Linked DNA regions of Homo sapiens. The protein of the gene in region 2 interacts with the protein of the main gene of each other region in a biochemical or structural test. Each region holds a gene or a part of one and is shown on either strand. Other genes may lie near its edges. The genes, in order: SELENOS, DERL1 and RHO.

Region 1 (3,749 bases), on a different chromosome or scaffold from region 2:
CCCTGACACCCTCCTTCCACCCCTACCAAAAGGTGCTAGATGCAAGGGGGGCATGCAGAATTCAAGCACTGTTTCTCCCCATGGAAAAAAATCAGGTTTCAAGGTAGTCAGTCACATCTAATAGTGTACTTAAACATACCCCTCTACTTTTTGTCGTTTATTTCTATTTATAACAAACTCTTGTGTTGAGGGCTCTTGATGGACGGCAGCAAGGGAGCTGCTCTGCTGCATATGAAACCCCGACCCAGAGCCCCTCTACTCATGCGATGTGTAGTTGACAGCCACTTCACAAACATTTTCAGCTACAGAAAATATATTCAAGGAAGAATGTTAAAAAGTTTCCTTATAACCTACAAGGGGTTCTCTCTAGATGTAAACAAATCTGGATGAAATATTTTAATCCAAGTATACCATTTCCCACGTCGTAAATCTTCTGGGCTGGTGGGAGCCAATCCAGTTACACACTGGAAGGGGAGTGAGGGTCCCAGGGCTTCCCCACACCTCACAAGGCCCACCCTTGTTTCCACTGACCCTCTCTTTGACCTGAAACCCCCAATTGCCTCCACAGGCAAAACAAAACTCAAATCTCTCTAGACTCAAAGACTTAAGACTATGCCAACCTATTTGTTTGTAATTACACTGCTCAAGGCTCCTGTTTCCTCTCCTTCAGCCATTCTCCAGAGCGCTCCTCAAGAGATTTTAAGTCTCTCACAGCCAGACTGTATTTCCCTTGGTCAAGAAGCAACCACGGAATATTCTACCTGCAGGAGATAACAAATGTTGACTAATTTATGTATGAGACCATTCTATAGTACTTTTGCAGCGAATTACCCCCTATTCTGAAGGTTAATGTTTTTCCTTCTGATGATCTAGACGGGGTCCACACACTACAGCATTCAGCCCAAATCCAGCCCATGAGCAGAGAATCTTTTTTAAAAACAATCCTTTAAAAATATAAAAACCTAAGACTATGTGACAGAGATCATATGTGGCCTGTAAAGTCTAAAATATTTACTGTTTGGCTCTTTATCCAAAACTGCTGATAGTGCCTCTGGACAAGAGCGTAAAAGATGAGTCATGGCGTAAGGGAATAACTGAGAGGTCACGTAGAAACCTGGTCAGCCTATGAGGAACCTTGAGGCACGATGTTTCTTTATCCCAGTAATTCGGCAACTCGACTCCAAGCACCCAATTTTGTGGATGAACCCCAAGGAGTCTGTCAACTTTCAAAATCACGGCAGCTGTCTGCCACTTGCCAGACTTATTTTGGGTGAGTAATAATAAATAGAGAAATAAGTAATAGTTAGAGGTTGTAATAAAAAGCTATTTAATGTTTGATAGACAAATTGAAGTCCATAAATCTCCTTGAATAAAGATGCTAAAAATGTTATTCTTGTTTTTTAAATAGTTTCGTTTTTACAAAGTTCTGTACATAAAAATAAATATACAGAAACAAACCCCATCAACTGTCCACATCAGTAATCCTCACTGGTGGGCTCACCATTGATAAGGAAGACATCATTCAACGCAACCTGTCACAGAGACTGTCCTAGCAGCAAGGATTTCTAACCTCAAAAGAACATTACTAGGCCTCTTTTATCAAGATTGCTAATCATCTAGAGGCCTTTACCTACCAACTAGCAATTAACCATGAAATCAATGAATGCAATCACTGTCTCCAAGTAGAATGTGACCAATGACCTCATGCCTAGAGGCAACATCTATACCTTTTGCTGACTGGAGCCCTGACATATGCAGGTGTAGTTAGGAACAGAAATCAACCCCACCTCCCCTTGGCTAGTCACTGTGAAAAGCGTGCGTAAGGCAATTGAATCGAGGGTTAAGGGTTCATCTTGCTAATGTCAAAAGTGACACTAACAAGATTCTTAGCCTCATCCGCCAGATGACGGGCCTCTGCGTCCAGGTCTCCAGGAGCAAGCTCCGCCTCCTTCACCAGACAACGGGTTATAACCTGGGAGGACAGAAAAGCAGCACAACAGTATTGATAAAAATCTGAAAATCTGGGAACATTGTATATCCACAATAAAATTATGAGAGTGACACGCAAAGCACTGCAAAGATACAGATCCTAAGGGACATTTAAAAAAACCTTTTAGCTATGTGAAAAAAAAAAAAACCTTTATATTGTGATTGCCATTTGAACTGATTGTCTGGTGGGGAAAAAAGTCATTCAGCTTCTTTGTCCCAACCTCCGAAACACATGCAAAAGGGTCACCAAAAAACTCTCTCAAGAGGGCCTGATTTAAGTATATGAATCCTCCTATCACAGTGCTTACTAAAACTCATACATTCAAATAAGGGCTGTTCACGCTACAGAAAACAGATTAAAAAAAATCAAGAGTCAAACTTGTCACTTCTACCAGTCAGAACGGGGTCTTCTGTATCCTTCCCTACCCCCAACCACCCCACTCCCTCATGAGCTTCCCAAAGTCAGTGCACAACTGGTAACCTGGTTGAGTGCTAAGGTTCTAGGGCCACCCAGAACTTAAATGTTACTTTTACTCCTTACTTATAGTGGAATCTTTGGGCAATTAAACACTGTGCCTCAGTTTCCTTATTTGTAAAGCCAGGCTAGTCAAAAGTCCCAGCTCAGAAATGCTGGGGATGCTGAAAGAGGCCGTGCAGGCAAGCACACCCTGCATTCCATCTTCTACGATTTCCATTCCTCTCCTAAATATCACCTCTATGTGTCTAAAAATAAGCTTCCGGCAGGACCATTTAAAAATAGCATTTTCTTTCCAGATGCATCACCTTCTCTACAGCAAGCCAGGTTTAGTCTTCTGACACAAAGGGGATTACAGCTCAGCGTTTAAGGTCAGCCAAGTCTGTGGCCCTGCTGCCTTGGAGCCCATGCCCCAGTCTTTCCTCAGTCCTCAAAGACACCATCAGGGCCTCTGCGGTGCCCCTCTCCTCCTATGGAGGATACAAAATCTTCCGCCTTGGTTCCTACAGTGTTCTAGTGTGTTTGTTCTTTCCTTCCTCAGCAGTAACTTGCAACTCTTAGCCAGAATCACCAAGGATTGCTTATTTTCGTTTGTGAGTCCCATCTTCCCAGATTTGAAATTCTCAGGGATGGGATGAAGACAGACTGCTGTGGCATCATCCAGAGTCCCCGGGGCAGTGCTGCACACAGGAAGCAGCTTTGGATGAGCATCTGTCTGCTACTCCTTGTTATTTGCAAGAAACAAGGTGGTCCCAGCCAGAAAGACCAAAACCACTGTGTTCCAGCTCCTTGACACTCATCTGAAGATTGGCAGACAATTCCTCACCCTACTTAGCTCTCCCTCTACGGGGCTGCAGAAGGATCAAGTTAGAATACTATAAGTACAATCCTTCTAAGTACTTAGTGAGGACCTAGGAGGTGATTTGCATCTGTTTCCTTTATTGAATCTTCACAATCCTAAGGAATTAGTCTTAATTTATGGACAAAGAAACAAACAATCTTGTTCCTAAAAGGTAACTATATCCTGTAAGTGTTGAAAATCTGTTAACATTTGACATCAGTGGTGCTTACCTCCTCCCCGCAAAGGCTTTCTGTCCGATTTCCGTTTCAGGACAGATGAAGTGGAAGGCCCAGGACTGTCTTCCTCCTGTTTGAACACACACAGTAGTGTAAGAAGCAATTAAAACATTCTACTTGGCAATCTTCATCTACCGCATGCCAGCCGGCCGAGGTCTCCAGTCACCTGGGGCTTCTTTGCATTTCCTTTGTAACTTTTTCCTTCTTG
Region 2 (3,749 bases):
GGTTTAAACCTAACCCATGTTAGCTGCAACTCCACTACAGTCTTGATCACTTAGCTCAGGAAACAAACACCCAGCAACAACCCTCGTATCTCATTAATACCAATCTGTGGCCCTCACTGACTCAGTGGTACTTTTTTATAAAAATATCTGAAGAAGTGGCAAACGGTTACAACGGATGTCAGGTCGAAGCAATTCCAAAAGCTGAGAAAACGCTTCATCCGCTGCTTGTCTTCTCCCCCTATTGCTACAGTTCTGCCACCAAAGGGGGAAAATTACGTGAATATGATTGTTGTGACCAAGCCTTGGCAAAAGTCAATAAATAACAGAACCTGTCAAGGGCAGAGCAATTTTATGGGCAACCTCTTCTAGTTGCAAATGTGGGGGTTGGGAAAAGTGGGAGAGAGGCATGTGTGCAAGAAAGAGATAAGGGTCCTTTTGGGAAGGGTTTGGTGACCCAGCCCCAGCTCAATGCCAGCAGACTAGGACCCGCTAAAACCCATTATTCAGACGGAAAGGGGAGAAGAGAAGACACCAAAAAATGTAGTCAGTTTTGCAATTTGCACAGTTGGTATTTGTTCTTCACAGCAGTAAGGACTTGAATGAGAATCGTGAAACTTGTGGAACACTTATATTTTTCTTCGGGATTTAAGAAACTTTGTCTCGTACTGAAAGACTACATTCAGTGTGGGTCAGGTCCAACAGTGTTAGCCAGAACGCAGTTGTTAAGTGCACCCAGCACTGGGAGGAAATGTGGCTTGAGAGGAGCGGCTGCCCGAGGCCGCCCCTTCACTGGTCTCCAAGTCGAAAGCCCTGGCCCCAGTTGTGTCTCCCGCCTCCGCCATTCTGATCAGCAGCTCGCCTCATGCTAGCAGGGGGCACACCAAATCCTGATACTCCTCCTCTCCTACTGGGCAGCCAGCGGTACCTGGTGCAGAAAGACGGGGACACAAACGGAGAGAAGAGAACAAAGTCACTTCCACATAGTTATCTGACCTCCGAGAACACCTCCCTCTCCTGCTGTTCCCATGGCACTTGTCATGTTGAAGGCAGCGAGGGACGTCTTATTTAACTTTGTCTTTTCTGTACTCAGCCCCATGACCTGACCACAGACGGCATTCGTTTTTCATGTTTCTTAAATGTATTCAGATTTCAGCTAAATTCACACTCTGAACGTTTTTTTCTCTGCTTATAAAAGTAATCCATGCAGAACAGTATGGAAACAAAAATATTACACCCACAAGCCCAGCAACCAAAGAATGACTGATAGCATCTTGGTATATCTAAATATGGCTCAAACTGGATCAAAGGATACAAAATACATTCACTTTCAAAGGCCAAATCCACAGCCTGCATGTTTGAGCCTTGCACAGCATTTCTAAAAGGCTCTCAGCTGAGCCCATCAAAGGAGACAGGGGAAGAAGGCTTTCTATGTTGGAAGTATGGGTATGTTTTAAAATTTATTCAGAATCTGCCTTCCAGGTACATTCTTCCCTTCTCACAGATGGTGGGAGAGCTGGGGCCCCAGACGGTTAGATGATTTCCCACCTTAAAATTAATAAACTAAGAGTTCACAGAACAGCTAAGAGAACTTAAACCCAAGCCTACACTCTCAATAGTATTTTCCAACTATTTCCCATCTTTGACTCTTTTATTAGTAAACTGAGAATGTGTTTAAACCTATTCCACTTAGCAGATCCTAATGTTTAAAATTTTGCTTGAAGGCAGAGAGCATGATCTGATACCTCCGCTTAAACCCTTCTTGGCAGCAAGAGTAAGTCATGACAGGTGACTTGTCCACAGCAGAAACCCTGAAGAGGACAGGCTTTATACTTGACCTTATACTAGAGCAGTTACTATGTGAATTTACTCAGTGATTATTGCCTTACACTAGGTGCTGCCTGCTTATAAATTCATCTGATCTTCACAATAACCCCATGAGGTAGGCATTACTATTACTCCTGTTTTATAAACAAGAAAATTGAGCCAACACTGAGTGAAGCGCTTCGAAAGTGACAGGATTCCAACCTAGTCAGCCTGGTTCCAGAGCCTGCGCCCTGCACTACTTGTTATACTACATGCATCCTGCCTGGGAAGGGACAGCAGTCAGTGACTGGAGTCTGTTTACATCATACTCGATACCTTCATGCCTCTTCCCAAAACAGACAACAACTCGGGTTTTTGTTTTTTTGTTTTTTTTTGAGACGGAGTCTCACTCTGTCACCAGGCTGGAGTGCAGTAGCATGATCTCAGCTCACTGCAACCTCCACCTCCCGGGTTCAAGCAATTCTCCTGCCTCAGCCTCCCGAGTAGCTGGGACAACAGGCGCCCGCTACCATGTCCAGCTAATTTTTGTATTTTTAGTGGAGCCAGGGTTTCACCATGTTAGCCAGGATGGTCTCGATCTCCTGACCTCGTGATCCACCCGTCGGCCTCCCAAAATGCTGGGATTACCGACGTGAGCAACCACGCCTGGCCAAAAACCCCTTTTAAACACAAAATTTAGTGTGTACAGAGAAGATATAACTACTCTAAATGGAATGGAAAATGGTGATACAAATGTATCAGCATTCCATTTAGAAAAGCAGTTATACCTTCCTATACTCACCTCCTCCATTTTAAACAAATACAGCTTTACCATTAAATCAAAATGTATTTTCCAAGTGCTGGTTTCTCAACATCCATGCCTTCTGGTACAATAATATTCCTCCAAAGTACATAATAAAATAGAACACTTGCTGGAGAAAATGCTAGGGCTGTCTTGCTTTGCTACTCACTCTAAGACAATATGGAAGCCATCTCCACTGCTTAAGTAGATAGTGAAATTAAATGCAAATAATTAGTATAAAAAGATACCCAATTATACATAATCAACAAAAATTTATGGTAATTTCAAAGCAGTTACTGCTTTTGCAAGGAGCTGTATTTTGTCATCTGATCTTTATGCAAAATTTAGCAGAAGGACTTCCCCCAACAGAGAAAGTTCAAGTGGAAGGCAGGCTCCAGGGCTCGCTGATTTTGCCACTAGAATCTTGTATCCTGTGTTGCCCACAACTGAGAAGTAGCTACAAGCCGTTAAGTTAGAATATGGCCATTTAAAGTAAAGTAACTGTTGGCTGCCCCCCAAAAGCACCAAGCTTTTTTTAATTGATGCATCTGCCATCCTACTTGATAAACCTAGATCAGAAAGCCAAACCTGCTGTTATTATGTCCTTTGATAATTAGAAACCAGATTGGTCATTTGTTTTTTTAGCCTGAAGGCAATTCAAGGCTCAGAAGAGAAACAAGTTTCTTTTTATTCTCTTAAAGAAAAACACACACACCACAACCACCAATATGGTATATCTCTGTATATTACAGTTCACAATTTGAAAAGTCTTTGAAAAACATACCCCTACCCTATAAAAGGAAGGGGAGAAAGAGGAGGCCTGCTCAAGTTTTACTGCCCTCACTGATCCCTTAGAGGAATGACAGAACTGCAAAACATTAAAATTAGCAAGATGTGGAAGGGTTTGGTTTGTTTGTTTTTTTAAAGCTTTCAAATGCAAGCTATTACTGCATATCCCTGATATGAGATTAGGCATGATTGTCAGGCAGGCTGTGACACCCAGATGGTGATTTAACTGGCCCGTTCTTCGACAGCCTTTTGCCTCACTGACAGAACGGTCACACGACTATTACATGCTTCTGGGTGTGTGCGCGTCTCCTCTCAGATCGTCAAAATCCTGCTCTCCTACCCCCACCTTTAGGAA
Region 3 (3,749 bases), on a different chromosome or scaffold from region 2:
AGAGCTTGGTGCTGGGAGGAGGGGGAAGGGGCAGAGGGACCACACGCTGAGGAGAGCTGGGCAAAGAAATTCCAGGGAATGGGGGAAGTTATTTGCTTAGCGCTCTGGGCCCATAAGGGACACGAATCAGATCAGGGGGTCAGGATTGAACTGGGAACCCGGTAGGGAGTTTTGTGTGTGTGTGTGTGTGTGTGTGTGTGTGTGTGTTGTGTGTGTGTGTGTGTGTGTGTGTGTTTAGCAGAAGAATGCATCCTAATGTGGGGCAGAGTTCCTTGTTGGGAAGGAATGCAGAGGTGGTGGAAACCCAGAATTGGCAGTCCTTCCTCCCTCTCCCTTCTCGGGAAATGAAATAACCCGGACATGTGGGGGCCTCTCCTAGGAGCCATGAAGCAATGTGCAATGTTTTGCCCAGAGGAAGAAGAAGGAAATGATGGAATTCAGACATCTGTCCTGCTCACCACCCCATGAAGTTCCATAGGGAGAGTGGCCATATAGTTAATCAACCAAACTGGGACATTCCTAACAGTGAAAGGGACAATATTTGTAAACTGGGACTGACCCTGCAGAGAACAACCACCCGTAAGTGGCACACCCACCTTCTGGCCAGAACTGAGTGATCTGTGATTATTGAATGCAACAAACACCCAACAATGGCCAGAGATTCCCTGAGAATGGGACCGAGGCAGCAGCCTGGACATGGGGGAGACAGGGCAAGGCTGGCAGAGAGACGCTTGTGGCTGGCGGTAAGCTCTCCCCGTCACCCAGCTTTGCAATGGCTGCTTCTAGCGTCTCCTCCTGCATCTCAGCAGAGATATTCCTGGATCACAGCCAGGAGACCTAGGCTCTTGTTGCTGCCTGGCCACATCCCTAAATGAGTCTCTTCCCCTCTCCCTGCCTCAGTTTTCCTCTCTGTTAAGTGGGATCTGTTATCCCTGCAGCACCCCATCTGTTTTCCTGTTAAATGCAAGACATTATTCTAAAGCAAAAAGGAACTGCTTCAGAGCGGCTGCTTGCGGTTCTCAACACCAGGAGACTTGGAACGCGGCAGGGAGGCTGGAGGGGCACCTGAGGACAGGGGCTGAGAGGGGAGGCAGAGGATGCCAGAGGGGACCGAGCCCATTGCCCAGCACAGGGAAGACCCAATGACTGGAGAATGGAAAATCCACTTCCCACCCTGAGCTTGGGCCCCCAGAGAGGAGGGGTCTGGCTTGCCCAGCTCTCCCTCAGTGCCCAGCCTGGGTCTGACTCAGCACAGCTGCTCCAAGGGAAACAGAGGCTTGGTGCTGCAAACATGGCCCGAGATAGATGCGGGCTTCCAACTCAACTCTGCACCCGTCCCTGTGTGACGCCCCAGCAGGGCGCTTGACTTCTTTGAGCCTCAGCTCAGTTTTCTTGCTGTGAAATTAGACAAGCGCATATTGCTCCAAATAAGATCAAGGCAGTGTTCAGTGCCAGCCCTGCACAAACAGCAGCCCGGCTATCACCATGAATGGTGTTTGTTGACTGAATATATGAGGGCTTTGGATAACATTGACAGGACAGGAGAAGGGAGAAGGCCTCTCAGCCACCACCGCCAAGCCCGGGACTCTCCCAGACCCCTCCATGCTCCCGGGCTCCTGCACACCCCACCCACACCCGGCTCATACCGCCCAGGGTGGCAAAGAAGCCCTCCAAATTGCATCCTGTGGGCCCGAAGACGAAGTATCCATGCAGAGAGGTGTAGAGGGTGCTGGTGAAGCCACCTAGGACCATGAAGAGGTCAGCCACGGCTAGGTTGAGCAGGATGTAGTTGAGAGGCGTGCGCAGCTTCTTGTGCTGGACGGTGACGTAGAGCGTGAGGAAGTTGATGGGGAAGCCCAGCACGATCAGCAGAAACATGTAGGCGGCCAGCATGGAGAACTGCCATGGCTCAGCCAGGTAGTACTGTGGGTACTCGAAGGGGCTGCGTACCACACCCGTCGCATTGGAGAAGGGCACGTAGAAGTTAGGGCCTTCTGTGCCATTCATGGCTGTGGCCCTTGTGGCTGACCCGTGGCTGCTCCCACCCAAGAATGCTGCGAAGGCCTGAGCTCAGCCACTCAGGGCTCCAGCTGGATGACTCTGGGTTCTGACCCCCCCAGACCCTTATAAAGTGACCTCCCCCTCCTAAGCTCCTGGCTGAATCAGCATCTGGGAGATTGGGGGTGTTCATAATCATATTAATCCCCGCTGCAGAAACTGAGGGCCTAATTGGCTTCTAAGAGGGGCCAAGGTGACACTAGGAGGAAGCCTGAGGTCAGGGAGGAGAGGTACTCAGGATCCAGGAAAAGGGAGGAGAAGGTCCCCTAACTTCTGCATGACTTGTCTGTCCCAAGGTCCCAGCTCAGTCTGGTGGCCTGGGTTTGAAATAGGGACCATGGGCCTCTGTGCTATGTCCTCTGGACAGCTAGAGACTTTCTGGTTTATTCTCCCAGTCTCTCATCTCGTCACACAGCCCCTTACCTGTTCGTTCCCCCACAAGTTACCTCTGGAGTCATCCAGTCCCCACACTCCTCTGACAGGAGGAGCTCCATGAGGGCAGGGGCTGCAACCTGCAGCTTCCGTTTCTGGTGCCAGACACATAGCCTAGGGCCCAGGAGCCCAATCCTTGTTGCATGGAATTGGAATTCACTCTCTTGTTCGTTCATTAAACATTTATTTGCAGGCCCCTGGGAATACAAAGATGGAAAGAAACAGCCCTGCCCAGAGGAGCTCAGGGGCTGAGGAGGACTCAAATGTGGGAAGAAGCAGATTCCGTCCAGGGTGGCTGTGAGGTTGTGGAGACAGGGCCTGACTGCCTGGGGGTTGCAGTCTGGGAGGCCATGTTTGGGCCTTTGAGAGAAGGAGCAGTTTGCCAGGTGGCTAGGTGGGGAAGATCTGGGCTGGGGGCAGTTGTAATGGGTCTTGAACGCTAGGCCGGGGAACCTGGCTTTATCCAGAGGAAAGTGAGCAGTGGCTTGGGCAGATCACTGGTGTAGAAAGGTGACTCAAATGCCCCCAAAGATGGAGTGGAGGGAGGGAGGATGGAGGGGGCTACCAGAGCAGGGGAGGGGCAGAACCCTTCAGGGGACTCCAGTCTGAAGGGGAGGCTGGCCCTGGAGGCAGCAGACAGGGCACTGTTGGGGGAGGCCTAATCAGCCACGAGGGCCTCAAATGCCATGTACCAGGTGGCCCCACGAGGGCCGATTCCAGAATAGCAGGATGTACCGTGAGAAAGAAAGTAGTCAGAGCCTTGGGGGCAGATGACTGGGGGAAAATGGAGGCCAACACTGGCAGGTCCCCCTCTCCCCGTCGTCCAAGCAACATGATGACACCTCCCAGGAATGAAGTGGGGTGTCTGGGGCGGCCTGTGCAAGTGCTGAGAGTGCCCGACGTGCGGCCGCTCAGTGACCACTGTCCAGCCAACATGTGTATTGAGCACCTACTGTGGCCCAGACAAGGTGCTTGGTCCTTGGGGACACACAGGGTACACGAAAGAGCAAGCTCCTGCTCACAAGAAGCCAGTGTTTTTGTGGGGTGAGGGGGCACAGGGACCACAAACAAATAGAAGAGCGAATAACAGTAGGGACAGTTCAGTCGCAGCCACTCCCAACACAGGAGGCTTCTCTGAGAAGCTGGAGCTTGAGCTGAGAACGGAACAACAGGAGGAAGCTTCAGGGGAAGGACATCCAGGCGGAAGGACCCCTGAGAGTGCAAAGCCCTGATGCCTGGGAAATATCCCTTAATCTCTC

What was found.
Region 1: the proteins of DERL1 (region 2) and SELENOS form a complex in vitro, tested with the Homo sapiens proteins (one study listed by BioGRID).
Region 3: the proteins of DERL1 (region 2) and RHO form a complex in vitro, tested with the Homo sapiens proteins (one study listed by BioGRID).

What each region holds. Positions count from the first base shown.
Region 1 is NC_000015.10:101,270,885-101,274,633, forward strand, and holds part of SELENOS (selenoprotein S), read right to left. Parts: coding exon 3,708-3,749; intron 3,612-3,707; coding exon 3,536-3,611; intron 1,973-3,535; coding exon 1,893-1,972; coding exon of another isoform or gene 1,887-1,892; 3' UTR 1,880-1,886; exon of another isoform or gene 1,307-1,879; intron 762-1,306; 3' UTR 1-761. UniProt on the Homo sapiens protein: Involved in the degradation process of misfolded endoplasmic reticulum (ER) luminal proteins. Participates in the transfer of misfolded proteins from the ER to the cytosol, where they are destroyed by the proteasome in a ubiquitin-dependent manner.
Region 2 is NC_000008.11:123,014,661-123,018,409, forward strand, and holds part of DERL1 (derlin-1), read right to left. Parts: intron 926-3,749; coding exon 787-925; 3' UTR 1-786. UniProt on the Homo sapiens protein: Functional component of endoplasmic reticulum-associated degradation (ERAD) for misfolded lumenal proteins. Forms homotetramers which encircle a large channel traversing the endoplasmic reticulum (ER) membrane.
Region 3 is NC_000003.12:129,526,992-129,530,740, reverse strand, and holds the start of RHO (rhodopsin), read right to left. Parts: upstream 2,103-3,749; 5' UTR 2,008-2,102; coding exon 1,647-2,007; intron 1-1,646. UniProt on the Homo sapiens protein: Photoreceptor required for image-forming vision at low light intensity. Required for photoreceptor cell viability after birth.